Regions from separate parts of the Homo sapiens genome. Here region 2 is linked to region 1. Evidence: fine-mapped QTL for protein levels in blood plasma. Region 1 holds a variant in brackets. A gene starts in the other region. All regions are shown on their reverse strands.

Region 1 (14,590 bases):
TGGATGGCTCATGTTGGATTTCTTAAAATTGGGGATGGGATGGGAAGGTTTGGTGATGCTGATTATGGAATTGTACTCTTCAGCCCTGGTTGTTTGCTTGTGTCGTTATGAGCAAAAGATCTAAATGAGGGAAAAAATGAATGGAGAAGGCTGAGAGGCATTGTGAAGAAAGAATGACCTTTTCTTGCAATAGAAATTTAACTCCAAAAACAACTCTGAACGGAGAGCCAAAGAACAGCATGGACAAAGGCGTATTTTGGTGATATTGATATATAGTGATTGAAGAATAGCCTTCTGGTTTATTCTAAACATATATCCTATCAAATGTAGCAAATTTCTTAGAAGAAATTCCTAAAAGCCAAATGTTATTTAAATAAAAATAAATAAATACTTTGACCCAAAGTGATGCATAGGCCTCTCACTGTGTCAACCAGTTCTAATGCATTTATGCCCTCAGCTGTATTTAGGGGGCATGTGCATTGCCAACTGCTAACCCACTTTCAGCATCTAGATGTAAACATCTCCTCTGAATCCTCACAGCACTTATGCATATTTTGTAGCATTACTACGATCTGAATTCCATACCCTTCTTAACTATGATTCATTAAAAGCAAGAACTTTAATTCATTTTTGTAACTCCTGAGAGGCTTAACAAAATTTGCTTCTTATTTCATGAAGCCTTTATTAATATTTAAAATGGCATGATACACAGTGACCTCTTAAAGGTTTGGTCTGGCGTGATGTGGACAGAGAATCAGATTTGGAGCCAGGATTTGAATCCTCACTATTTATTCACATAACTTTGGTTTCTTTATCTGAAATATGAAGATTAGAATAACTGCCTGGCAGAAATGTCACAAGAGTTATATATTTATACAGAAAAATGAAAAACAAGAAGAAACTATTAATATCAGTCCAAAAGGAAAAAAATTTACTCTCATGTAGTGAGAGATAATCCTCATGGCAGTCATGTGCAACTTTTGCAATTCTCTCCCGTATCTTCTTAAACCTGAAAAGTGTCTAGTTTATTTACATGTTGATATAATGTGTAGAGTGATATTCTCCACAACTGTTTCCCTCAGACTAAAGCCCCTGGATTTTTTTAAATTTTGCATAGAAACTAAACCAAGGTTAAACCATAAGGAGGAAGCGCACAAATGCTTTTTGATGGAAAGAGGTATATTACAGCAAAAGATGACTCAAACATGATTCTATACAAAATCTGCTTTTGTATGGGAAAATAAGCAGCTTTTCAGAACTAGCCCTAATTTATCTTTAAAGAATGTAAAAGTGCTTATATTGAATTTGTATATAGCTGTAGAGCTTAGTGTTAAGCCATAATTAATACAAGAGAAAGAAAAATAAAAGGATAAGCACAGTTATGTTTTATAAGTTTACCTGCAAGATACTATATTACTTGTCTGCAAAAGACACAACAGGTGGGTTCTCAAAATAGAAAATAAATCCAGCTGAGCGCAGTGGCTCACACCTGTAATCCCAGCACCCTGGGAAGCTGAGGTGGGTAGATCACCTAAGTTCCAGACCAGCCTGGCCAACATGGTGAAATCCCATCTCTACTAAAAATACAAAAATTAGCTGGCCATGGTGGTGCACACCTGTAATCCTAGCTGCTCAGGAGGCTGAGGCAGGAGAATCGTTTGAACCTGGAAGGCGGAGGTTGCAGTGAGCCAAGATCGTGCCACTGCACTCCAGCCTGTGTGCCAGAGCAAGACTCCGACTCAAAAAAAAAAAAAAAGAAAAAGAAAATAAAAAAAAAATCCAATTATGGAAAAAATACAGTCATAGTTTTGTACCCTGAGTTGTGATTATTCATTTTTTAAAATACACTTATTATTTCCTAATACCTTATTTACCCATGAAAAGAAATTAATTATTAAGAGGTATGATAATATTTGTTCTTAAACCTACACTTAAAATGTCAAAAGTGTGACCATAGAATGAGGGATCTTAAAATTGACAACTGGCTGAGCAGCCTGGAGTAAGAATGGTGTAAAATACTTGTGTATAGGTATCACAGCCAGGCCAGGAAATCATGAGAAAGGGAAGGTGAGAGTGCTCATCATCTGACTGATTATCAAATTTAGTATGCGTATGGTTCCAAATTTGAACACTGGAAAGTGATATAGACCACCTGGGATCATTTTTAACATGGAAAGCAGACTAGGCTGGATACATCAGCATAACCTGTCTGAACATAAAGTCATCACATGAAGGACAGCTGGAGGAGAGAGGGAGAGGAATGGAGGAAGAATGAGAAAGTGAGCTAGGTCCCGAAGAGCTGTGCATCCAGATGTGCCTAAGCAGACAAAACCTCTTCTCAGTTATGGGAGTCAATAAATCCCCTCTTTGCTTAAGCTGGTTTTTTTAAATTAGGCTTTTTGTCATTTATAATAGAAAGAGTCTTAGCTAAAGTAATAGAAAACCAAAATAGATGATCGGGCTGACACCTTATATCCAATAAAGACTGCATTCCAGGTTGACATATAAGACTTAATACAGAATTTCCAAAGGAAATGTCTAAAGATTGTACAATTCTAAAACTCTCACCAACAGTAAAAGAATAAAAGTGTAAGGAGTTGGTGACTGAACAAAAGGGAGTGTAGAGAGCTGTTTGTGTGTCTTCAAGGTCTCTCCTAAGGAGGAGAGGTGAGGAGGTTCTCTCTTCACTTTGTCAAGAGCTCTAGAGGGTCTTGGGAGAACTTGAATGTGTCCTTGGAATGTCAGAGAATTATGACTCTTACTTGAGATATCTAAAGGGCAAAAAAATGGCCCCAGTCCTGCCCTGAAAGTATATTAAGGAGATACTGGAAAGCTAGGGATGACAAGCATTCCTACAGTTTTAAGAGGCAGTGAAAAAATGAGTTTCCTGTGGGCTCTATACACACCAACTGCAAAAAAAAAAATGTTCCTGTGAGTTATCTTTTGTCATGTTGGAAATGACTTCCTAGAGAGGCCAATAACTTTTAAGAGAAAGAAAACAGAAGTGTTGCCAGACATCTAATACTTTGTTTACCCATGAGGGACTGAAGAAGGATGCAGGCAAACAACTGAAACAGACATGGATTTATACAAGCCAAGAGAATATCAGATGAAAAGTCCCAAGTGATGGGAAAATTCTGAAGAACTCTCAAGAATACCTATAAGAGGAAGGTTCAAATGTAAAACTCTGCCAAGAGAAAATGTGGGACCACTGTGAAATATTGGTCTAGTCGGACTTTCCTACTCCTTTACCTAGTTTTTTCCTTCCTGTGTTCCAGTGCTGGAGGGTTTAGAAACTTTGAGTGGCAAGATGGAAGAAAAGGAATAAATGCTCCAGTTTGGGGTTGGGGAGAAGTTGACTAGATCATTCCTTTCCTGAATCCAGGGAAGAGAAGAAATACAAACATTAATTTTAAATCAGAATGGAAATGTTGATTATTGCATTGGTATAGACATTTTAATTACAAACTGGAGAGCCATTTGTATTACCTAATGGTGACCAGAAGAGTAATGGGATGTTTGGGCAGAGGAACAATGCAAGGACCAGTTCTACAGAAGACATTTAAAAGGACACAGGAGCCATGACTCAAATTATTTCTAATTGAATTCTATGAGTCTTGTTTACTTAATACAACCATTATACAGATAGAAGTATTAATGTAGCAAAAGCATTTGTTGATGACTTAGATAAGGCATAATGGGAAAAAATACTTATACATTATTAGTAACTGTAAATTGACTCAGAAACAATAGAGCAATATATTCCAAAATTCACAAATTTGTCTATATATTTTTGGCCCAGTATTTCCATTTTGAAGAATGTGCTCCAGTAAAATTACAAAAAAGTGTAAATTATTATTTTGTAATTGACTTTACATATTAATTGCATCAACAAATAGCAAAAAGAAAATAACCCAAATGTTCACTAACTTAGTAATGTCTATGTGTCAGTTATAATTTACATATTAGCATATTAACAAAATAGACTATTATGTAGCCAATTAAAAAGTGCGTGTACACTTTGTCTACAAGTGAAAATATGTGTAGAAATGAATTTTTAATGAAAAAATAGAAAACATAGTATGATTATTCTGAACTAAAAAAATATGTAGTGCATAAATTTTAAAGCTCAAAAAGAAAAACTTCAACACTCAGTAGTTTCTTTCTTCTTGTATTTGTTCAAGAAATAGTGCCACGGACTTACAATGCAGTACTAACATTCCTGGTTGCTGTTGAATATTTCTAAGCTAGAGCTCTACTTCAAAACTGAAGACCAGAGACATCTTGGTATTGCCCCATGTTCATATCTCATGAAACATGCTTTTTGGG[G/A]TGTGTTTAAACTGTGCTGTGACTCTGCAGAAATAAGCCTTGAAAGCTGAAGGAGAAATGTTTCAAAGGGAAGGAAAGCCAGAAATATCTGTTTCCTAACTCAACAATAAGACAACTTAGTTCGTATACCTTGGAAGGAATGTGATTCCACTTTTTAAATGTGAAGTGTTTCTAAAACTTTTTTTAATATTAACACATATTAGAAAGACAAATATCACGTGTTCTCACTCATATGTAGGAGCTAAACATGTGGACTTCATGAAGACAGAAAGTAGATTGGGTAGATTGGTAATCACCAGAGGACGGGAAGGAGAGCAGGGAGGGGATGATGAAGGCAAAATAAAGAACACAATTGTGTTTATTACCACTGAAGTGTATATGCAAAATGGTAAAGATGGCAAATTATATATGTATATTTTACCTCAATAAAAATATAAACGGGGCTTAAAACCTAGATGACGGGTTGATATGGGCAGCAAACCGCCATGGCACATGTATACCTATGTAACAAACCTGCACATTCTGCACATGTATCCTGGAACTTAAGGTAAATAAATAAATTAATAATTAAATTTAAAAAACATATATATGTCAAATATATCAGTTTGACATAATATTAAGAGCAAGTGTGTATATAATCCTTCATCAGATTAATACGTTTTAATTCATAATTCAAATCCTAGTTTGAAAAATCGGGCTACTTCTCCATTTTAGCACCTGAGGAAGCAACAAGAGAGTGCACTCCCAGCAACAGAAGGCAGAAAAATGTGCCTCTGTTGTTTCTCCCTCAAAATAAGTCTGCTCTAGGAAAGAGTTTATTTCTAGAACTGTAATAGTCATCCTATATAGCAATGACCACGGTTCCCACCAGGACTTACCATGTGGTTTGGCTGTGTCCTCACTCAAATCTCATCTTGAATTGCAGTTCCCATAATCCCCATATGTAGTGGAAGGGACCCTGTGGGAGGTAATTTAATCATGAAGGTGGTTACCCTCATGCTGCTCATGCTGTTCTCACAATAGTGAGTGAGTTCTCACAAGATCTGATGCTTTTATAAGTGGCTTACCCCTTCGCTTGGCACTCATTCTCTCTCCTGCCACCCTGTGAAGAGGTGACTTCTGCCTTGACTGCAAGTTTTCTGAAGCCTCCCCAGCCATGGGGAACAGTAAGTCAATTACACCTATTTCCTTTATAAACTACCCAGTCTCAGGCAGTTCTTTATGGCAGCGTGAGAATGGACTAAGACAACTTATAAAGAAAACCTAAAAGAAAAGCAAATGAAGCCCTCATCTCTCACTGGGACCATCTGAGCAAAAGATATAGAACTTATAAGTTGCCACATTCTCTGACCCATATAGCTCTTCACTTCTAAAGCTAAACAGAATCCTCTAAAACATGATAACCATGTAATCAATTGTTTTTTGAAAAACCTTTAAGAATTTGTTTTTATTTACTCACCTCAAGGTTTTTACAAAACTTCCAATATATGGGAGATCCAGGTTCCCAGCTTTCTTCCCTTATTCTTGTTCAATACAGGTACACAGCATGACCTCAAGTATCATGCAATTTGTTCACGCTTCTCTTTCTTCCAATGTACCATGAAAGTCTTGACTGAGGCAATGACAGAGCACCTTCACATCTCACTCCTTCACTGTGTCTAGAATAGAGTCCACCGAAGTGATTATGTCATAGACCAGTTTACTCCTTTTGAAATCAAAACTACAACAGACCTAGAGTTTTTTTCTCAAGGATTCTGCAGACAGGGAAGTAAAAATAGTTTTCTTGATGATTTGAAGTTTCTTAAAGCAAAGTGACCAATGTTGGTTTTTGTATTTCTAGGAATGACTTTCCCCACAATTCCTCCACCAGGATTAAAAACTGGACTTGAAACCTAACTCTTCTGTCTGGTTTCTGCCCACTTGGCTAGCCCTATTCTTGTAAGCAGATACTTTGCTGTATCCTCAAGCCTTGATGTGCTCCCGATTCCACACCTACCCAGCCTATTTGCTGCTACCCACTTGACTTTGAGTATTTTCACAGCCTGAGATTATTGTTACTTTATCCCACCTAATTGATTGTATACAGTATTAACTAGGGCAATTTAAGTCCCAAAGCATAATTTTGTTTACACACAAGAAGTTTATTTCTTTCTCAGGTAATGGTACAGGAATATTACTCTAGGCCTGTGGGGAAAGTGATTATTCTTTCTATCATCATTTATGGATCTAAGCTGATAGCATGTAGCTCAAAGCCAAGAATTTTGGGGCATGTACTGTTTTCTCACTAGATTGAAATGCAGTTTCCCATGGCCAGAAAACCAATAAACTAAGAAAAGTAAAGTAATCTGCCCACTACCATACCCAAAACACATTGGTAGAGCTGGGCTAAGATATGGGCAATAAAAATTACCATTCAAAAGAGAGATTAATGTGAAACACACATCAGTCATAGGTCCGTGGCAATGATAGAATCCACTGGGCAAACATTGTGAAGACTCCTTCCCAGGAAGTAGAAGAAATGTCATTGTTCACCATGGCTCTTGGCTTTGCACTTTGAAAGTTACTTCCTTGGTCATTTAATTCTATGGCCACATTTAAGTGAGTGTTAGGCAGTGTGCCCTCACTGCAAGCTGTTCAGATTTTGCAACACATTGTCTTACGATGCTAGGTTTGTTTTAGAGAGGAAATAGGCAAAGGCTTTTCAAGTCAGTCTCATGATTACTTTGGCAATACGATTCCCTTAGAAACCTGTGATTTCTAATCAATTTGCTGATTTCTAATCAATTTCACTGAGCTCCATTTGCCTGACTACACCCAAAGTTATTTCAGAGACATAGTTTTAAATCTCTTTATTTTTTGAGCACTTGCCTTTAACTTAATGGCAGCTTCTTTGATGCTAGTGAAATAATGGGCGAAGATGAAAACTATATTCTCGTTGTGATCTTAGCCATAGGGCTGAGTTCCTTCAGTTAATGACAAGCATTGATATGTATTTTGCCTCTAAGTCTTTTTCAGTCTTATCTCCTACAGTTTTAGGACTAGATGTATTTGGCTTTTCTAACACTTTGATAGCTTTAATTTCTTCTGGAAAATCAGCCAATACCTTCCTGAACTCATTTTTTCTTACAATATTGCTAAAAGCAGTAACAGTCAACAAACACTAAAATGTGAGCTCTTTCTAAGCTCTCCTAAACTACAGATGCAGAAGATACGTAGTATTTTTTCAAAGTTATTGTAGACAAAACTTACTAAATAGCTTACCTCAGCATAGCATAAATAGGCTGCTTTCTAGCATTTATTATCTAATTCTTTATCTCCTGACACCCATATACTAACCTAATGCCATATAGGTCACGATTTTGTTACAGCACCTGATTTCAAACTGAATGTTCTTTTTCCACGGCAAAAGGATCTGCTAATACTCATAAGAAGCTTCTTGGGAGGCCGAAGCAGGAGGATCGATTGAGCCAAGGAGTTCGAGACCAGGCTGGGCAACACGGCAAAACCCCATCTCTACTACAAATACAAAAATTAGCAAGGTGTTGTGGTGCATGCCCGTAGTCCCAGCTATGTGGGAGGCTGAGGTGGGAAAGATCACCTGAGCTGGGGAAGTAGAGGTTGCAGTAAGGTGAGATTACACCACTGAACTCCAGCCTGGACCACCCAGTGGGACCCTGTCTCAAAAAAAAAAAACAGAAATTATTATAATAAAAGAGAAAACATGATACGCACCACTGGTTAGGTACTACCAGTCCTCTAGCAGTTGAGCTGAGGAAGAGAGATCATATTCAGCTATGGCTTTCAGGAGGACTTAAAGCGTTAGAGATTAGAGGGAGGCACTCAGACTCAGGGAAATGTGAAGCATATACTAGAAACATACATTAAAACATATGGGGCTCAAAAGTCGGAGACAAGGTTGGGAAAGCAGGCTTAAGTCTGGTCACAAGTCACACCTGATGGACTCTAGTGTAAATCATACTCCTCTACGTCTGGAGTATCCCCCTTTTAGATCAAGATGGCAGATGATCATTTGAGTTTATATTCTCTCTTTTCTAAGACTCCGTCTAAATTATAAAAACAAAATGAAAATAACAGAAGGGAAAATAACAAGAGATGAGTAAATTCAATAAATATTTGGAAAGCTGAAAGCAAATGAAAGAATTCTGACTGATGAAGTAGAAAGGGCCAAAAAGATGATTTGTACAATAAGGTTTCCCCCCAAGATTGAATGAGCTACCTGGAAAACACCAAGACTGCCAGTGTGAGTGTTAGCTTCTAGAGCATAAGATGAACAGCGGGGAGAGGTTGGAAGAGAAAATTGTTGCAGAATATCATAGTGGTTAAAAACATAGTTTTTATGGCCAGAGAACATGGGTGTGAATCCAAGTTTTGCCACTTACTAGTTGTGAGGTCTTAGACAAGTTAATTAATCTCTCTGAGACTTTTCTTATTTGTAAAATGTACTGACGATAACACTACCACCTTCTGAAAGAGCAATAGTGAGGATTGAGTTAATACTTACCAATCATTTAGAATGGTGCTTGGTGCACTGTTAGTGATTAATTAATGTTCATTAATAATTTTTATTATAATTCCTTATAATTTTGATTTCAAAAATATTTACAAGTTTCCTTTCCCCATCTCCCCTACCCCAGCAGCCTCTGGTAACCACTGTTACCCAACAGAGTTGTCCAGGTTCTTGGCATGTTGAACAAAGAATTGAACAAAATGCACAAAGTAACAAAAGAACAAAGCAATGAAAGACAAAGCAACAGAAGAATGGAGTAAGGAAAGCACAGACTTATTGAAGACCATTCACAGACTGGGAGTGGGCTTAAGCAAGGGGTTCAAAGCCTCTCCAATTGGGGTTTTCTGTTTTTGGGGATTTTTTTTTTTTTGAGACAGCCTCACTCTGTCACCCAGGCTAGAGTGCAATGGCATGATCTCTGCTCACTGCAACCTCTGCCTCTGGGGTTCAAGCAGTTCTCCTGTCTCAGCCTCCCAAGTAGCTGGGATTAGAGGCGCCCACCACCACGCCTGACTAATATTTTTGTTTGTTTTTGGTTTTTGTTTTTTTTTTTTTTTTTTTTTTTTTTTTGTATTTTTAATAGAGACGGGGTTTCGCCATGTTGGCCAGGCTGGTCTCAAACTCCCGACCTCAAGTGATTCACCTGCCTCAGCCTCCCAGAGTGCTGGGATTACAGGTGTGAGCCACTGTGCCCGGCCCCAATTAGGGTCTTTATAAAGCCAAAAGAACTTGGCAACACCCCTTAGGTACCCTTTAGAAGCCTCCAATTGGCTACACCCTATGAAGGATTGGCCTGTGACCAATCAGAGGCTGAAGTGGAGGCTTAGCTCATGGTCAAGCAGAGGCTGAAGTGGAAACTTCTGTCTTTTTATCACAGGAATGAGGATGTGGCCTGCATGCTGCCTGATCTTGCCTAGAACCAGCTGCACCTGCTGTTCTCTTGCTTATGCAGACTGGCTGCACCTGCTATTCCTTTGCTTATGCTCCAACCCTTGGCTATCCTAATTCCCTGTTTTCCTCCCTATTACTGTATTCTCTACTTCTCAATAAAAATAAAACAAAATACAAACCATTTGCAGGTATTATAGTCATGATTTGTTATTTCAAGTTATGTTTAAAATGTAAAGCCCATTACAGTAGGATAGATGAGAAGAAAGAAGGGTCTGAACAAAGCCAACAGCAGAGCACATGCAGAAGGGGAATGAAGACTTCAGCCTAGACTCTCATTAGGTGGTTGTCCAGGATAACATGAAGTCTCATGTGAAATATATTGGAAAAGAACAAGATTCAGTCAAGTACCCAAGGTGCCTGACTGCTGAAACGGCACTGTAATTTAAAAAGCAAAGACAAGTTTATCATACTGTGAGATCCTTGAGGGCAAGGACCAAGTTCTATTCAAATCTTTGTCAAAAACCAGATTTCTGATAGGCTTACTTTAGTACCCATTGATCTTAATTATAGTTCGCCTGCCAGGAGTTAAGGTCCCTCCTCAACAGTAAAGAGAATGACAGGCACAGGGGTAGGAGCACATAGAGAAGGGCCTGACTTTCAAATGAACTCTGGAGAGCACTCATCACCTCCAGGACACAGCAGATCTTACTGAGATGGCTGGGTCAGAAATCTCTGAGGGACCCCAGGATGCCCACACCTCAGAAAGGACAGGTAAAACCAAAGGACCTGGGGTCCCAATGTGCAGCATGTTTCCTCTTCTAGTACACACCAGATACATTCTGACTGCCTTATCCTTGGAGTCAGAAGGAGGAGTGTCTGAGGTCTCTTTTCTCCCATCCTAAAAACAGGACATAGAGCAGGCCATGGCCATATGCTGTATGCCTCCCCTAAGTGAGCAGTAAGAGATTGTCACAAATCTGCTATGTTCAGCATCTGCATTTGAATAAATGAATGTTATTACCTCTCAAGGTGACTGCTTTGAATGTATAAATTCTAAAGTATTTCAGAAACCTCAGACATTACAGTCACACCATGATAAAATCTGGTAGGTCTGATGACAAGGAATGGTGTTTGTTGCATATTTAAAAGATTGCAGACAGTTCTACATTAAAAGTTCTTTCTGTGGGTGAGGGGTTTGTGGGATGGGGGAGATGCCAGGATATGTATAGAGCTTAATTTCACTTGTTGGGATTATAGCTAATTTTCATCTTTTTCTTTATACTTTTTTTCTAGCTTCTTAATTTTCTGTAACAAAACTATATTACATTTTTAAAGAGACAATAACAAAAGCCATTAACTTTTTCAAAACTAGATATATATATACATATATATACATATATACATATAGCAACAATACAGTTGCTAGTACACATCTCCCTAACAGATAGAGTTACATTAGTCTACAGGGGTTTTACTTATAATTGACATAGTTACCCTAATCTATGCATTCTTTGACTATGTTGCGTGTCTAACATGTTCCAGTGACCATTCAATTGTGGATTACAGAGAACTGTCATTGTCCAAATTAGAGGCAAGAATTTCAGTCCTGTGCGAAGCATCCAAAAAGCTCTTCAGCACAGATAGGTTTAGGAATAAAACTGGAGATCTTTTGAGTGGTTCTCATTTTTATAAGCTTGGTCATGAACTTATCTGCCCCTTAGTTATTTTTAGAATTGATTTCATGCTCAGGTCAATCATTTCACAGTGAAGAATATACCATTTCTCAAACTGCCTTCTTTCCAAATTTTATGACTAGAGTTCAGCCTGAGTTCACACAATCAGCTGATGAACATCACTCAATGGAGCATATTAACTAGAATTGTTGTCTCCATCTGGGTCTCTTCCAAATGGTCTTGTCAAATGCTATCAGGGCATCATATATTAGAGAATATGTTATATCAGCCTCCACTTAAGTTACTCATAGATTGTCCTTGACACTTCTCATGGCTCTTCTCTCTTGTAGGTGGTATTATTGGTAACATAACTTGCTCTGACAAAAGCAAATGAAGGAAATTTTAGACCTTTATTATTCAACTGGATAAAACTGAAGGTTCAGAAGTGATTGCAAATATTGCCAACCAGGTGAAAATTATTTCCATTCTCAGCTGAACGCTATTACCTTTAAATCAAAAGTAATCACTTTAATGTAAGTCTTACCTAAGTCTATTAAACTTTTTCTAGGTCTACCAAAGCATAAAAATGCTGTATATTTTAATGTCCTCAGATTAAAGTATCCCCATCTCTGAATATTTTGAAATTTTAAAAAGTAATCACTAAAAGGTGACCAGCAGCATTTATTCTTACTAAAAAGAATGGATGAGATGGCATGGAATATAGTAACAGCCCCACAGCTTGTCTCCTTGTCTCTACTCTTGTTTTTTATATTCCCTCCTTCACAGAGCAATTTTTTCAAACTATCAATTAGATCATGTATTTCTCCTACTTAAAATCTCCAGTAGGTTTTTCACTGCACCAGAATAAAATCACCACTTGTTAGCATGCTCTCTGAAGTTCTGACTTGTCCACATGCTCAGCTCACCTGGCCTGCCCCCTTCAACCCTCTCCCACTCTCTCCTGTCATTAGGTTGCAGCCACTGAACTTTTCCCCAAAACTCCAACATACTAAGCTTGCTCCTTTCTTAGGAACTTTGTTCTAATTTTTTCTCCTTTTTTTGCTTCATATCTTTGTTTGACTGCCTCCATATTATTCCTGTCTCACACCTTCAAAGAAAATTCTGATGACTGTATTTTTCATCTGCTTTGTTTACTATGTATCCTCAGAGCCCAGAATAATGGCTAGAACACAGGAAAACTCAGGAAAATTTCATTGAATGAAATAGGTCTTCCCTGCCTACCCAACGCAAAGCAGCTTGTAGTCTTCTTCCCTCCTTCCCATTAATTTCTCTTTCATTTTCTTCCTGTATTTTTTTCATAGCACTCAGCTCCCAGGACTACCCTCTTTATTTGTATAACTGGTTATTGGCAAGTCTCAATTCAGTAGGGTAAAAAATCAATTTTTTAAATTTGCTTATACTGTATGGAATATACTTTTCCTATTTCTTATTCCTATTCACTAGAAACATTCTGGGGAGATAGGCAACTTTCTAGTCTTTTTTGTTATTAAAATTTCAAAACACCAATCTTACACATAAATGAAAGCTATACAGCTACTTTCTTTTTTCTAGGTTTTCATGCCTCTGGGATGGTGATTAGAGGAAGAAAGCAAAGAAAGGACATTTTTTTACTTCACTGTTCACGGTGTAATCGTGTGCCTGACGGCTGTAGCTACTAACTTGACTTACGTTGACTGGCCACTAAGGGACTCTAGGAGTCAGAATCTAAATGGTGAGTCTCTCAAAGGCATAGAGAGAATTTCAGAGGGCCTTACCATGACATGGGGATTAAACTCCAGTTCTGCCCAACTCTCATCTTGAAATCCTTATCCCATGCCTCTTTGTGTTTGGTGTCCCCTTGCCTAGGGGACAGTCTTCCTGGGTAAGATCGGCAAGATAACTCTTCAGTCACATTCCATTTGATCCTTTGAATACTCTGGGGTCCTTACCCACCAAATGGATGGAGTTCAGCTGCTCAATCACTGCCTTTCTCAGAACTCGGTTGTCCAACCACAATTCCCTTTCCCCTACTCACGTAGGGATAGGGCTAATATTGGCAAAATGCCGCCCAAACAGCCTGCTGACAGTAAACCAAATATTAGTTTCTCTCACCTTCTTGAAGACATTTAGTCTTTGTAAGCTTTTCTCCTAGATTTTCCCTTTCCTGTTCCTGCTTAGATTCTAAGAATGAAGTGCATCCTTCTCCTTTTCTTCATCAGGTGAAGTGGGATTTACCCATTACCATATATTCACCACCAGGTCACTGACGAGAGACTCCAGTGAATCTCTTTCCCTCTGCATTCCTCTCCTTGTACAGACTAGAGGGTCACATTGTGTAAAGCCAAACATAGCCCTGCAAAGAGATCTGGCCCCAGCAGTGAGCACAAACTCAGTAATTCTCTTTAGAGTGAGGCGGTAATCAGTGCCTCTTGGTTTCAGCCGTGGTCCTAGTGGCTAATTATGGAAGAACAGGAATAGTCTCACAACATCCTGTAACATTGGCTTACCTGTATATTATATGCCACCCATAACCATAAAGACACCAGGATTTAGGTTCCTTGAAGGTAATGACTACAGGTCCCTCTCTGTGGAAGAATAGTGAATAGAAGAGAGAAATCACTCAATATGTGGAATGACTGATATGGTTTGGCTGTGTTCCCACTCAAATCTCATCTTGAATTGTAGTTCCAATAATCCCCACGTGTCATGGGAGGAACCCAGTGGGAGGTACTTGAATCATTGCGGTGGTTTCCCCTATGCTATTCTCATGAGAGTGAATAAATTCTCACATAATCTGATAGTTTTATAAAGGAGCTTCCCCCTTCACTCAGCTCTCATTCTTCTCCTTCCTGCCACTATGTAAGAAAGATGTGTTTGTTTCCCCTTTGGTCATGATTGTAAGTATCCTGAGACCTTCCCAGCCATGCAAAACTGTAGATCAATTAAACCTCTTTATAAATTACACAGTCTTGGGAAGTTTTTTATAGCAGCATGAGACAGACTAATACAGTAAGTTGGTACTAGAGGTGGGGTGCTGCTATAAGGATACCTAAAAATGCAGAAGTGACTTTGGAATTGGATAACAGCCCGTGAAAGCAGCCGAGAGGGGGGTTGTACCATGCAAAGCCACAGGAGCAGAGCTTCCCAAGACTGTGGGAACCCACCTCTT
Region 2 (15,470 bases), not on the chromosome of region 1:
GATTATCTGAAAAAGCTACTGAAATGCTCCTTTTCCAATTGCATACACTTCAACCACAAAACATACTGCAGCAGATTGAAAGATATAGCTGGCTTGAGAATACAGCTGTCTTCTATTAAGCCAGACATCTAAAATATTTATAGCCATTAAAAAGAATAAAATCCCATCATTCAAAGTGACATGGATGGAACTAGAAAACATTACGTTATATGAAATAAGTCAGGCACAGAAAGTTAAACACCACATGTTCTCACTCATAGTTAGATGTTAAAAAAAAAGAAAAAGTTAATCTCATAGAAGTGAAAAGCAGAACAGAGGTTACTAGAGGCTGGAGAGGGAAGGGGAGGATAGGGAGAGATTTGTTCAATAACACAAAATTACAGCTAGGTAGGAGGAACAACTTCTACTGTTTTATAGCACTGTAGGATGACCATAGTTAACAATAATATATTATGTAGTTTCAAATAAAGAAGAAAGGATACTGAATGTCCCCAAAACACAGAAATGATAAATGTTTGAGATGAATATGCCAATTACCCTGATCTGATCACTACACATTGTATGTATCAAAATATTACTCTGTACCCCATAAATATGTACCATATGTGTCAATTAAAAATTAATTAGGGCTGGGTGCAGTGGCTCACGCCTGTAATCCCAGCACTTTGGGAGGCTGAGCCAGGCGGGTCACCTGAGTTCAGGAGTTCAAGACCATCCTGGCCAACATTGCGAAATCCTGTCTCTACTAAAAATACAAAAATTACCCAGGCGTGGTGGCACACGCTTATAATCCCAGCTACTCAGGAGGCTGAGGCACAAGAATTGCTTGAAGCTGGGAGGTGGAGGTTGCAGTGAGCTGAGATCACACCACCACACTCCAGCCTGGGCGAGAGAGTGAGACTCCATCTTAAAAAAAAAAAAATTAATTTTTTAAAAAGGATTTATATAAATATAAAGCAGTGCTACTCAGTAATATTTTTGTTTCAAAAAAGTTGCTTTTCATAAATATATGTTTTGTTGTTATATAATTTATTATTTTTATTTTTAAAAGTAGTAATTATATTTAATTTTTCTTAGTTTTCTTTTTTTTTTTTTTTAGAGCTAGGGTCTAGCTCTGTTGCCCAGGCTGGAGTGCAAAGGCACAATCATAGCTCACTGCAGCCTTGAACTCCTAGGCTCAAGTGATCCTCTTGCCTCAGTCTCCCTAGTAGCTAGGACTACAGGTGCATGCCACCAAGCCCAGCTATTTTTAAAAATTTTTTTGTAGAGATGGGGTCTTACTACGTTGCCCAGGCTGGTCTCAAACTCCTGGCCTAAAGTGATCCTCGCACCTTGGCCTCCCAAAATGCTGGATTACAGGCATGAACCACCACACCCAGTCAGTTTTAATTTTTAATATGGAAAATTTCAAAAAATATAACTCATATAAACTGAAGCTCCCTGAGGTCCTCAATAATTTTTAAATGTAAAGCGTTTCTCAGAATATATACCTAGAAGTAGTATTGCCAGGTTATAGATGATACTAAATTGTTTTCCAAAGTAATTGTACCAATTTATAACTTGTCATAATTAATATTTTTACTGCTTTCTCCAGAAGCATTTTATCAGATAGTCTAAATCACATCATAAAATGAGTTTCTTATCTGAAATGTTCTTTTTAGACTTCTAACTCTATGAGTGAGAAAAACAGATACAGACATAGATAAAGATATCACTCATAATCGTAATCTCAGAATCCAGTAATAATCACTGTAATTTTTTTGGTCTATATGCTTCCTGACTTAAAAAGAGGGAGCTCTAGATTTCCAGTTAAATAAACATGTCTCATTGAACACAAATGCTTATCTCTGTTACCTCCCAAAATGATCTAAAATGACAATCTTGGAGTGCAAAAGGAAAAGCCTATAAGGACAAAGAGAACAGGACAGTAAGTAACTGTGCAATAGAGATGTCAATACATTTCTTTAATGAAGGAAAGCAGAGGGCTCACTAGTAATAGAGCTAGGAAAAACTGAACTCTAACCCAGGTGCCTGCAGAGGGAGGCAGGATTGGGGGAAACATCAGATAAAGGGTTCCTGACATCAACCCTTGACATCAGCAAGAAGAAAGCTGATTCTCAACTGAGAACCTTCCAGGCTTGGGATGGGAGGGACCAGGGCCTGGCTCTACCTCCCGGGGTTGTTGTAAGGATTAAATTAGCTAAAACATGCAAAATACTTAAAATAGGGGCTGATACTCAATGGTAGCTGTTATTGTCTGAGGATAAGCTCCAACTTGAAAGCCAGAGACCAAAATAAACAACAGAGACAATCTAGGAAGCAGAAGAAAACAGCAGAAAATTACAACTGGAATCCTCAGAAATATGAAATAAGAGAAGATCCTGAATCCACAACATAAGAGCAAGAGGCTACCAAAAAGGAAAGTCGGGGATCAAACAAAAACTCTTGGAAATTAACATTTTTGTAGCAGAAATGAAAAAATTCAATAGAAGAACCAGGGGATACAGCTCAGGAAAATCTCTTGTAAATTAGAATAAACAAAACCAGGAAATGGAACATGAAGAAAAATTTAAAAACAGGGAAACTGGCTGGGTGCAGCAGCTCATGCCTGTAATCTGAGTACTTTGGGAGGCTGAGGCAGGAGGATCACTTGAAGCCAGGAGTTCAAGACTAGCCTGGCCAACATAGGGAGACCCTGTCTCTATTTGTTAAAAAAAAAAAAAAAAAAAGAGAAACTGATCACAGAGAACGTTTCCCAGAATTGAAGACTTTGTTTCCCAATTGAAAGGGGCCACCGAGTGCTTAGCATAATGAATGAAAAATACTTAAAGGACAGTTTGTTATGAACGTTCAGAACATCAAGGATAAAGGAGAAAAATATCCTAAACAAATTAACAAATTAACAAACAAAATATATGGGAAGTAACACAAGTCAGAATAAATCAGTCTCCTCAAGAGTAGCCACATGAGAAGCTAGATGACAATGAATCAATGCCGTTAAACTTCTGAGGGAAAATAATTTCCAATGTGGAAATCTGTCACTCAAGGATGAAAGAAAATAAAGCCATTTTTAGACAAGCAAGGACTCAAAAATTTAGCTTCCATGAACCCCTTCTGGGGAGTTAGTGGAGAACATACTCCTCCAAAATGAGAGAATAAACCAAGAATGGAAAAACATAAGATCCAGAGAGCAGGGGATTTGGCACAGGAGAAACAAGAAGAGAATCCCCAGAATGTGGTTAGGTCCCTAATCCTAGGACAAGAGCTGTGAAGCAAGGCTAAGCAGAGGAGTTTGGAGCAAAGAGAGGATGAGTCTAAGGAGGGATGCTGCCAAGAAAAAAAAAAAAGACACTGGTAAATGACCTGGTTCACATCTGTAGTACCAGCCACTGAGGGGCTGAAGCGGGAGGATCACTTGAGCCCACCTCTGAAAATAAAAAATAAACAAGGGATGCATAGATCATTAAGCAAATAAAAATAGATAATTTTTTGACTCTAGAAAAAATATTATTCAATAAAGTGAATATAATCTTAGTGTAGTATATACCTCAACTGTAAAAATATTCTAGTTATATTACTATAAACTCTTGCTAGTCATTCAACAAACCAGGAAATTCTGCAGCCTGGCCAAGAGTCCACTGGTAGACACAAAAGAGACAGACAAAGCATAAACTCATGGAAAGAATAGAGAGGGGACTTTGACAGTGTTCAGCCTCAACATTCACTCCCTCCTGGCTCCAACCTTCACCTTCCCAATAAAGAATGTAGAATCCCAAACTGGTATCTCCAGTTCCGTTCTTTTCTGAAATCTTCTAATTGCTCACTGGACAATTCTTCTTGCCTATTGCCACTTGAAGCGTAATCTAGCTCTTTCTCTCTCTCGGTCCCTCTCTTGCGCGCGCGCACACACACACACACACACACACACACACACACACACGCTCCTAACTTATCCTCTTCCTCACCGTTTCCCAAACCAACTCATCACACCTTCTCCACTTTCAACAGTGGCTCAGTGGCACCACTACTTTTCCAGTCTTCCATGTGGCTTTTCCACTCCTCCATTCCCTATAGCTGGTTTGTTTTTAGCTGGCTTCTAAAGGTCCTGCCGTGTCTTCAGCTGTAATCTAGTTCATAGCTTATATGAACGTTATAAACCATACCATGTGACACAAATGTAAAATACCAGTACTACATCAAGATTTCTGAAATAGACTCTGACTTGGTTACTTTTATTAATAATAATCGAATCAGCATTTGTATAGGGTTTTTAAAAAGACATTTAATGTACTTTCCTCTGATTGCTAAAGTATAAACGTTTACTGTAGAAATTTTGGAAAAGCTGGGCGCAATTGCTCACATCTGTAATCCCAGCACTCTGGGAGACTGAGGCAGGAGGATCACTTGAGCCCAGGATTTCCAGATCACCCTGGGAAACACAGTGAGACTCCATCTCTACAAAAAAATTTTAAAAAATTAGCCAGGCATGATGGTGTGTGCCTGTAGTCCCAGATACTTTGGAGGCTGAGGTGGGAGGATTGCTTGAGCCCAGGTTACAGTGAGTTATGATCACACCACTGCACTCCAGCCTGGGTGACAGAGCAAGACCCCATCTATTTTTTAAAAATTAAATAAATAAAAAATAAACATTGTGCAGTAGATCTCTAGAACTTTTTCACCTTACAAACCTAAAATTCTATACCCTTTAAACAATTCCTCTTTTCCCTCTCTCCTAGCCACTGGCAGTCACCATTCTACTTTCTGTTTCTTAGACTTTGATTGCTTTAGATACTTCATATGAATGGAAACATGCAGTATTTGTCTTTTTGGGGCATTGTGCTCACTTTTAAGGCTTTTGATACCTAGTACTAAACTGACCTCCAGAAAGGCTGTTAACGATTTACAGTTTGACTGGAAGCGTGTGTCCATCTGGGCTGAGTTCATTGCTTGCTTAGCATCTATCAGTTGTTTCAATTCTTGCCAGTTTGATAGAGGAACAAATAGTGGACCCAAACAGGGTTTTACTTTGGATAAGGCCATTGTCCTATGAATCCTGGCTGAAATATTTGCTCCAGCACTTAGAAGCTGTGTGACCCGGGACAACTCACTTAACTTTTCAATGCTTCTGTTCCCTTATGTGTAAATGGGGATAATAATATACACGTATACATTATACACACTTATTATGAGGAATTAGTTAATAAATGTGAAGCTGTAAGAACAGTGCCTGGAATATAGTAAGCCCAAATGTAAGGTAGCTATTATCATTTTTGTCAATCCTTGCTAATGTAATACCTGGAAAATTACAGCCAGCTATTTTAATTTACATCTCCTCGGTAATCAGTTGAACGTGAATGTTCTCTGTATTTATACTGGCTATTGGTACTTCTGTCAAGATTTCCTTTTTCAAAGCACTGTGGCAAACGGGATCTCACTTGATCCTCCCAATAAACTCATGAATGAAGAAGGTGGCAATCATCAATCCCCACTTTTCGAATTAAGAAATTGAGCCTCGGAATTCGAATTCTGAGCAATTCCAATTCCAGGATTCGGATCTCACCCTCTAAAACCTAGTAGCTGTTGCAGAAAATATAACGGGAAAAAGCTTTGGTTAGCCGTAACCACCACCCACCCCGGTGTGGCTCCGCCCCTGCCCCGCCCCGGCACCGGCTTGCCCCGCCCCGCCCTCTACGCGGGTTTCCAGCCATCCTCTCTGCGCACGCGCGGCCGCTCCTGCGGGCGGAAGCCTCCTGGCGCTCGGCCCTGCGCCCCTCCCCCCGGCGCGCGGCCCCGCCCAGGACGAGGGGCGGTGGGCAGGCAGCGCTGGGTCCAGTGGTCGGGGGAAGGCGAGGATTACCCTCCCGGAGGCGTTGTCTGCGACTCGGCGGAGGCTCCAACTTCCAGTGGCCCGGTCGGGAAAGGTACAGACTCCCAAGCCTCTTGGTCGGCGGCTCCAGCGACCGCCATTTTCCTCCAGGAGAGGGAAGAGGGCAGGAGGCGGGGGCCGTCCCCTGGGGCCGGGCGGGCCGGGGCGGGGTCGGGGGGCCGGGCGGTGGGGGGCGGGCCCGGCTGGCTATGGGGCCCGGCCCCCTGGCCCCAGGAGCGGCTGCTGCGGCGGAGTTAGGCCGGCCGCAGTGGGAAAACCCTGGGCGCCCTCTGGGTCTCAGCGTCCCATTAGGACGGTTCCGCGCTGGGTGCCGCACGCCGCACAGTGGGCAACGCTTTCACAGGGGTCTTTGCATTTCACCCGCACACAGCAGCTCCTGGAGGGAGGCCAGGAAAACACTTAACCCATTTTGCAGACAGAAAACTAAGGCTCAAAGTGGGGAGGAGACTTGCCCAGGGACACCCAGCGAGGTTGTGGCCTTGGGACTCGGTTCCTACTCCCCCACATCCAGCGCCCTTGCCACCAGACCACTCTGCCTCACCTGGCAAAGGATGGGGCGGAGCTAAAGGATTAGAGGAGTAACTGGCAGGGTATTTTTTGTTTTGTTTTGTTTTGAAGATCTGCCTCTTTCTGTACCACCCAGATCAGAGCCTCCTAAGAAATATCCAGAAGTCAAGCCATGGATCCACCTGCACGTAAAGAAAAAACCAAAGTTAAAGAATCTGTCAGCAGAGTTGAGAAGGCCAAACAGAAATCAGCCCAGCAGGAGCTGAAGCAGAGACAAAGAGCAGAGGTGAGATTAAGGCGGAGGCTCTGTATGCCTGTAGTCTGCTGGAGATGATGCTGGAATAGAGAAACAGCAGAAAGGAGAACTGACAGCGAGCCATACTTGCCTCCAGGCAGGATGGGTGTTCTCCCAGGTTTAGAGGGGACAACACTGAGGTTCAGAATGGTGAGGTGGCAGCCCAGAATCACATGCCAAGTTAGTGTCAGAACCCCAGTCTGGTGCGGAGCTTTTGTGGTAAGAGACCCAAGGGAAGGAAGAAAGGAAAAAAAATGATATGTAAGGGGAAAGAAGGGGTCAGAATGAGAGAGAGCACGCAAGTGTCAGACACCCCCAGTACAGATGTTCTGGATTTGGTGCGGAAAGCAGCTACTCATGCCAGGTAGAGGCCCAAGCTTTAAACTCACCAGTGTGTTCCTTTGTTCTCTCAACGATTACAATCAACTTGAGAATAAAAAGCTTTAAACTTTACCCTGCCAATATTGAGCCACATACAGACATAAGTATTTTATTTTAGTATTTAATGTCAGGGAAAATCTTGCTGGTCTCTTTTTCCCTCTTTGTTTTGTTTATCTGTCTGCTTTGTTCATTTCCTGTCTTACATCCTTTTACTTCTCCATGGACAACTACTTTTTTTTATACTTTTACATTCAAATATATTAATAGATATCCTTGAACAATATACAGTAGTATTTTAAATTTTTACATTAATAAAATTCCTGCATTTTATTTTGCATTTTGCTTACATTGTTTTTTAGAACTATTCATGCCAATATAAGAATTTAGTTTATTCTCATTAATTTTTATAATAGTCTATTTTATGCATCCATTTTACTTAGTATATTTATTCATTCTTACAGAGATGCACATTTAAATTATTTATAGTATTTTTTGCTATTACAAACATTGCTGTAGTGAAAAGCTTTTAGGTGTCTCCTTTGGCACCTGCCTTAGAATTTCTGTAGGTTATTTAACTAGAAAAATTACTGGGTACATTCTCAATTTTACTAGACATTGCCACATTGCTTTTTTTTTTTGAGATGGAGTCTCTTTTTATTTTTTATTTTTTATTATTATACTTTAAGTTCTAGGGTACCTGTGCACAACATGCAGGTTTGTTACATATGTATACATGTGCCATGTTGGTGTGCTGCACCCATTAACTCGTCATTTACATTAGGTATATCTCCTAATGCTTTCCCTCCCCCCTCCCCCCACCCCACAACAGGCCCTGGTGTGTGATGTTCCCCTTCCTGTGTCCAAGTGTTCTCATTGTTCAGTTCCCACCTATGAGTGAGAACATGCGGTGTTTGGTTTTTTGTTCTTACGATAGTTTGCTGAGAATGATGGTTTCCAGCTTCATCCATGTCCCTACAAAGGACATGAACTCATCCCTTTTTATGGCTGCATAGTATTCCATGGTGTATATGTGCCACATTTTCTTAATCCAGTCTATCATTGATGGACACTTGGGTTGGTTCCAAGTCTTTGCTATTGTGAATAGTGCCATAATAAACATACGTGTGCATGTGTCTTTATAGCAGCATGGTTTATAATCCTTTGGGTATATACCCAGTAATGGGATGGCTGGGTCAAATGGTATTTCTAGTTCTAGATCCTTGAGGAATCACCACATTGTCTTCCATAATGGTTGAACTAGTTTACAGTCCCACCAACAGTGTAAAAGTGTTCCTATTTCTCCACATCCTCTCCAGCACCTGTTGTTTCCTGACTTTTTAATGATCGCCATTCTAACTGGTGTGAGATGGTATCTCATTGTGGTTTTGATTTGCATTTCTCTGATGGTGAGTCTCTTTTTTTTTTGAGACGGAGTCTTGCTCTGTCACCCAGGCTGGAGTGCAGTGGCGTGATCTCTGCTCACTGCAACCTCTGCCTCCCGGGTGCAAGCAATTCTCCTGCCTCGGCCTCCAGAGTAGCTGGGATTACAGGCGTGCACCACTGCCTTGGCCTCCCAAAGTGCTGGGATTATAGGTGTGAGCCACTGCACCCGGCCGATATTGTCAACTTTTAATTTTTGTTAACCTGATTCATTCATTAAATATTGGCCAGGCACAGTGGCTCACACCTGTAATCCCAGCACTTTGGGAGTCCGAGGCAGGCGGATCATGAGATCAAGAGATTGAGACCATCCTGGCCAACATGGTGAAACCCTGTCTCTACTAAAAAAAAAATTAGCTGGGCGTGGTGGTGCTCCCTGTAGTCCCAGCTACTCGGGAGGCTGAGGCAGGAGAATTGCTTGAACCCAGGAGACGGAGGTTGCCGAGATTGTGCCACTGCACTCTAGCCTGGGCGACAGAGCTAGACTCTGTCTCAAAAACAAAAAAAAAAGAAAAAGAACTGCTAGTATGTGCCAGGCACTGTTCGAGGAATTTGAGTCACATGATGACAAAGCAGAAAAGAATCCCTGCCTTCATGGATCTTGCATTCCAGCAAGGGGAGGCAGTAAACATAATAAGTAAACTTACTAGTGCATTTGAAGTTAATCTGTAAACTGAAATCTACCTTTGGGTTAAGGCAGACCCCCTGAGAGCTGTGGTCCTTTACCTTCCCATTCCCACCTGGATCCGGGTCCTCAGATGATATGACTGCATTGTGCTTTGGTGAACAATATGAGGGTTGCTATAAGAAACAGCCCTGAAGCAGGAGAACAGAAGCTACAGATAAGAAAACCATTGATCAGAGAAATGGTGATATAGCCAAGGGAGCTCTCACTGGAGGAACAGAGCTATCTATACTTCCGTGTACAACAAATGCTCTGGGAAATGGAGAACCAGTTGCCAGCCCATATGTGGTTACCTCACACCAATCAAAAGTGACTGTGGAGAGCACCCCCAATTTGGAAAACCAAATGAAAATGGAGTATCTCTGTTCAGAATGAAAATTTTGAAGAAATTATAAATTTACCCATTGGATCGAAACCATCCAGATTAGATGTCACTAACAGTAAGAGCCCAGAAGTTCCTTTGAATCCAGTTTTGGCCTTTGATGATGAAGGAACGCTTGGGCCCCTGGCTCAGGTAGATGGTGTTCAAACACAACAGACTGCAGAAGTTAAATGCGTATTTTTTCTGAAGAACCAACGTCAAAATTTAACGAGAATTTCTATAATTAATGGAATTCCTTTCATGCTATAAAAGAGCATCCCCTCTTCCAGTTTTCTAAAGATTTCTTGACCATCATTTTGAAAAGATTTATTTAAACTAGCTAAAGACAACAGACAGGATAGCTTTCCTAATAATTTTCATCAGTAGAAAAAAAATACTCCTCATTCTTCAGTACTTTCAAATGGCTTTTTCCAGTGTGCTCCTTCTTAGCAAATTAGTATTTTTCTGCGTTATTTAAAAGACAAGAGGATTTGGCTATAAAATGATTGACTAGGATTGACTAGGCATGATTTTTTTTCACATAGTTTGGTCTTAAAGCTTAACAGCTTAAAATTGGCAAAAAAAACTTGTGCCTTTTACCATGTAATACTTGAAAAGTAAGTACCTCTTTGCTACAAGTAGAATGAATAGGGAAAAGTTTAAGCCTGTTTTTTTAAAAATATTATTTTAAAGAGCTCTATTTGTAGAGGCAAATTATAGGCAGATTACCAGTTTCTTATAAATACAAACTTGTACATGGACATTCTGCAAACCCAGCTGTCATATTCTTGCAACTACTTTTGCAAAAGCATACTAAAAGGTTTTAAAATGTGAAAAAACATTATTTTTTCAGAGCAAGAAAATAATTTACTGTTGTCTTCAATAATGTGTAAAGTTTTTCCAGATAAACTAATCAAATAAATTAGAACAATGTGACAACATTGCAAATTTGTCATTAGATGCATTCCTTCTAACGTTACCAGGGGAGGATGTTACTGATGATTCAAGGCTGTTTCTGAAGTCTGTGTGTTGCTACTGTCCCCAGTGATGGTGGGACTTACCTCTGTCCTACTTGATCACAAATTATGTTAGGGGGAAATAAAGATTTAATATTTCATTAAATAAAAAAGAAATTTGGTTTTGCTCATTTAAGAGCAACAAGAAAATGGTGGTGTGTTGACTGTGTTTGGCCGCAGGGCACAGACCTTTATGGAAGTCCTCGCTCTGCATGGCATCCACCAGCTTTTCACCTTTCATTCTTATTCTTCACTTTTGCTGCTGAGCCTAGCTGTACAAATTTGCACTTTCATTTGCTAATGTAAATTCAATTTATTTTACCATTTTAGAGACTACTAATGATTAAATGTAAGAGAGGACACATGTTTTTATGTGGAGTGTTAAAAAAGATAAATTTATACCACTGTAATGTGCTGGATTTATTAAAAGAGATTGGTTAAACTGCTCGGTTGAATGAGAGACTTCCTCTATTGTACTCTTTTTTTTTTTTTTAAATCCAAGGATATTGTCTTTAGTAACAGCTTGTAACTTGTTAAAACATTAATTTGGGGTTTTTCCCTATTCTTAATTGTCTATGTACACATAGTAATTATGTTAAAATCCGTTTTTAAAAAAAACAGCCCTATGAAACTGTCCTCTGTGCATATTGTAAGGATAGATGTTGAGGACATTGTTCATGCCCTTATTGACACCCTTCTGTAAAGTTCTATAGGTTAAATTTATTTGTCTGACTTCAAATCTCAGCTCCTCCATAAATCCCAGTTCTTCCATGTGACGTTGGACAAGATACTTAACCTCTCTGAACCCCCAGTTCATCAGTTCCTCCTTGGTAAAATGAGGATAACATCTACCTCAGAAGACCATTAAAAGGAATAGAAATACCACGTGTAAAGCCCATAGCGCAGTACTTGGCAGAGGAAGCATTTGATAACTAGCAGTGATTATGATCAGGAATAATCTTGTGTTTCCAAGCAGGCAGCCTGCTCTTATTGTGTGGACCCTAAATTGAACAACTGCTGAGTTCCTGTTGACCTGCTGAAATGCAACGTTGCTGCACTCAAGCAGCAGCTGGCCCCGTGCAGCTCTTGAGATGTGCCAGGACCGAGCCAAGCCTACACATGCATAGCCACATGTAGTCCTCACACCAGGGCTCCAAAGCAGGAGTTATTGTGACTCCCATTTAACCTTGGTTAATCCGATATGTAAAATATATGGCCTTGTGAGGTAGGCAGTATTATCCTCACTTCAAAGGGATGTGAGTAGAGTCCTGTAGTTAAAGAGGGGCAGGCCTGTGGTCTAAACATCTTCTGACTTTTGTCTGTTGTTTTTTGCCTTGCCCCCTACAGCTGCCTTGCTGTTTTTTTTTCTGTTTGGTTGGTTGGTGTTTTTGTTTTGTTTTGAGACGGAGTCTCGCTCTGTCACCCAGGCTGGAGTGCAGTGGCACGATCTCGACTCAGTGCAACCTCCACCTCCCAGGTTCAAGCAATTCTCCTGTATCAGCCTCCTGAGTAGCTGGGATTACAGGCACCCGCCACCATGCCTGGCTAATTTTGTATTTTTAGTAGAGATGGACTTTCACCATGTTGGTCAGGCTGGTCTCGAACTCCTGACCTCAAGTGATCCGCACACCTCGGCCTCCCAAAGTGCTGGGATTACATATGTGAGCCGCCGCGCCTATCCTGTTTGTTTTTAATCTTTATTGCCTGGAATGTAATGCAACAAGACCCTTTGTGGGGAGGAAGAGACAGTTTCTATTCAATTCTGCAGACGCCAGATTCCAGAAAGTTAGATGTGAAGGAGAGATGTGGGAGGTGAATGGGAACGGAAGGCACATTGGCAGTGGAAGCACCGTTTGACACTGCTAGGGTCCGTTTCCTTCTTGACTGAGAGTCATTCTTTGGCCTGGACACCCTGACCCATTGTGAGTCTCCTCTTTCTCCTACCATCTTGCCTCCTTGATCTGGAGGTCTCTGAGAAGCTATTTAATTTGCATCTCAGTCCCTAGTACAGTAATGTGCAGATTAAAAATGCTCAGTAAATACTTAGTGAATGAAGCAAGCAGAGGTTTTCAAATATATATGTATATATGTGGGCCCGGGCACAGTGGCTCACACCTGTAATCCCAGCACTTTGGGAGGCCAAGGTGGGCAGATCACGAGGTCAGGAGATCAAGACCATCCTGGCCAACATGGTGAAATCCCGTCTCTACTAAAATACAAAAAATTAGCCAGGCACGGTGGTGCACGCCTGTAGTCCCAGCTACTCAGGAGGCTGAGGCAAGGGAATTGCTTGAACCAGGAGGCGGAGGTTGCAGTGAGCTGAGATCGGGTCACTGCACTCCAGCCTGGTGACAGAGCAAGACTCTGCTCACAAAAAAAATATATGTGTGTGTGTGTGTGTGTGTGTGTGTGTATGTATGTATGTGTGTGTGTGTGTGTGTGTTAAAAGTATATTTATATAATGTGTGTATGTGGCTTAAGAATAAAACACCCAACTATAGAACGTGACCAGTAACTGGGAAGCTTTGTGTACTCCTTTCCTGGTCATGTACCTCACCCTTCCCACCAGCAGTACCCTCTTTGCTGTATTTTATGCTAATCATTCTTGCTGTTCTACGTTAATTTACTGTCTGTGTACCTCTAAATATTTTGTTGTGTAACAATATATTGTTTTGAATGTTTCTGACCTTTTATATATGTTACCGTGACTGGCTGTCTTCACTCAGCCTTTTTTTAACCATTCAAGTTTATTTATTTTTATTATGGTAAAATATACATAAAATTTACTAGTTTCATCAGCCGCATTCTGTGTTTCAAGAATCATTTGCGGTAGTGTTAGTAACTATTTTCATCACTGTGTAGAATTCCATTTTTCTTAAAGATGACAGGAATATTCAAGCTTTCTAGTCAGTTTGGATCATTTTACTTTTCCTAGGAACTTGTTTCATTTAGGTTGTCAAATGTGTTGGCACGGAGTTCATAATGTTTCATTTTCATTTCTGTTATGTCAGTAGTTAAGTCTTCTTTCTAGTTCCTAATAATGTTTATTTGTGCCCACTCCCTTTTATGTTGATCTGTCATGTCAGAGGTTTGCAAGGTTTTTTTTAGTATTTTCAAGGAACCATCTGGCAGTCTTGGTGATCCTCTCTATTGTAGGTTTGGTTGCTTTTTCATTCGTTTCTGCTCTTTATTTTGTATTTTCTATTTGTCCCACTTCTAAGTTTCATTTTTTCCCCCTTCCTTGTCTTTTCAATTAATCAAGTTATAGCTCCTCTACACACACACACACTCTGTCTTTCATTTTTTTCTTCTACAAATTAGGAAGTTTTGTGATCTGTTTCTGTTCTTAGTGGGTGGATTAATTAAGAATAAAGAAAGATGATGAGGAATAAGGTGTAGTTACCCTGCCTTTCACCTGAGGATGTCTCTTGCCATCTTCTTTCCATCACCACTGCCTGCTGTAGACGATATTCCCACGACCTCCTGTCTGGACTGTTGTAACAGATGCCTCCTAAAGCACAGAAAGAATCAACGTTGCTTATGGCTGGGCACAGTGGCTCACGCCTGTAATCCCAGCACTTTGGGAGGCCGAGGCGGGAGGATCACATGAGGCCAGGAGTTGGAGACCAGTCTGGCCAACATGGTGAAACCTTGTCTCTACTAAAAATACAAAACTTAGCCGGGTTTGGTGGCGGGCACCTGTAATCTCAGCTACTTGGGAGGCTGATGCAGGAGAAATGCTTGAACTTGGGAGGCAGAGGTTGCAGTGAGCTGAGATCATGCCACTGCAATCCAGCCTGGACAACACAGCAAGACTCTGTCTGAAATATATATATAGCTCATATATATATGCGATATATACATACATATATAGCTTATATATATGAGCTATATATACATACATATATAGGCTTATATTATAGGTTATATATATAGGCTATATATACTACATATATACTATATAGTATATATACTATTAATAGTATATACTTTGGGAGGCCAAGGTGGGAAGATCTGTCATGTCAGAGGTTGCAAGTATACCATATACTATATATAGTATATATACACTATTAGTATATATAAGCTATATAGTGTATATAGCTTATATATATACTGTATACAGTATATATAGCTTATATACTATATATAGCCTATATATACTATATAGTATATATACCATTATTATATATATGTATACACTTTGGGAGGCTGAGGCGGAGGATCTGTCATGTCAGAGGTTTGCAAGTATAGTGTATATATATTAGTATATATAAGCTATAGTATATATAGCTTATATATTATAACATATATGCACTCTACTTATAACTTATATAAGCTATATATACTATACATAGTATGTATATATATATATATATATATATATATATACACACACACACACACTATATTCACATTGCTCCCCTGCACACTTATCTTTGCTGGCTCTCCAGAATCTGCCAGATAAAATCCAGATTCCTTGGCATGACATTTAAGACCCCAACATAATTTTCTTGCTTTCTCCAGCTCCCCAACCCCTACTCTATAATATCCTTTATATTGGCATGCTTGAAGTTTCCAGAACAGACTCTATACTTTTCCATTACATTTATTTACACATAAAGCCTCCCCCACCACCTGTCATGTCCCATGATAGATTTTAAGCTGAGATGGCCAATTTGCAGCCTTACAGAACTAGACCAGAAGATTATTTGTGGATAAATCTGATCTTCCTGTATGTAACTTCTACTTCACTGGTTCCTCAATCTCAATTGGCCACATGCTTGCTGAAGAGACTTGTTTTCTTCTTAAGGGATCCTACTAATCCCTTAAAGACCAAATCAAGCCACCTGCATCACTGCTGCTGTCTTGATTCTCCAGATGGAACTAATATCTAACTT

Alleles and levels. Alleles are on the strand shown, and positions count from the first base shown. The strength of an association depends on the size of the effect and on how common the allele is.
In carriers of allele A in region 1, the plasma level of the protein whose gene starts at base 5,989 in region 2 tends to be higher than with G alone (weak association).

Evidence for each region. PIP is the posterior inclusion probability: the model's chance that the variant is causal. The UK Biobank Pharma Proteomics Project read protein levels with antibody pairs (Olink). The fine-mapping took linkage between variants from a reference panel, not from the people measured, so its PIPs are less certain.
Region 2: it holds the start of ERMAP, and the variant in region 1 is fine-mapped to the plasma level of the ERMAP protein (UK Biobank, PIP 0.97).

What each region holds. Positions count from the first base shown.
Region 1 is chr4:144,094,713-144,109,302 of GRCh38, reverse strand. It overlaps LOC105377460 (a long non-coding RNA gene), which reads right to left. Exons shown (of 11, transcript XR_002959803.2): 5 at 13,929-14,006; 6 at 5,789-5,987; 7 at 5,208-5,287. Among named protein-coding and RNA genes, the nearest start is that of GYPA, 39 kb to the left of the region's middle. The variant G/A (reference allele first, on the strand shown) is at 4,330.
Region 2 is chr1:42,807,641-42,823,110 of GRCh38, reverse strand. It overlaps ERMAP (erythroblast membrane associated protein (Scianna blood group)), which reads right to left and starts at 5,989. Exons shown (of 12, transcript NM_001017922.2): 1 at 5,858-5,989. SVBP (small vasohibin binding protein) reads left to right here and starts at 5,714. Exons shown (of 3, transcript NM_199342.4): 1 at 5,714-5,921; 2 at 6,531-6,680. The coding sequence starts at 6,567. RefSeq lists silencers at 5,571-5,860, 6,011-6,210, 6,771-6,840.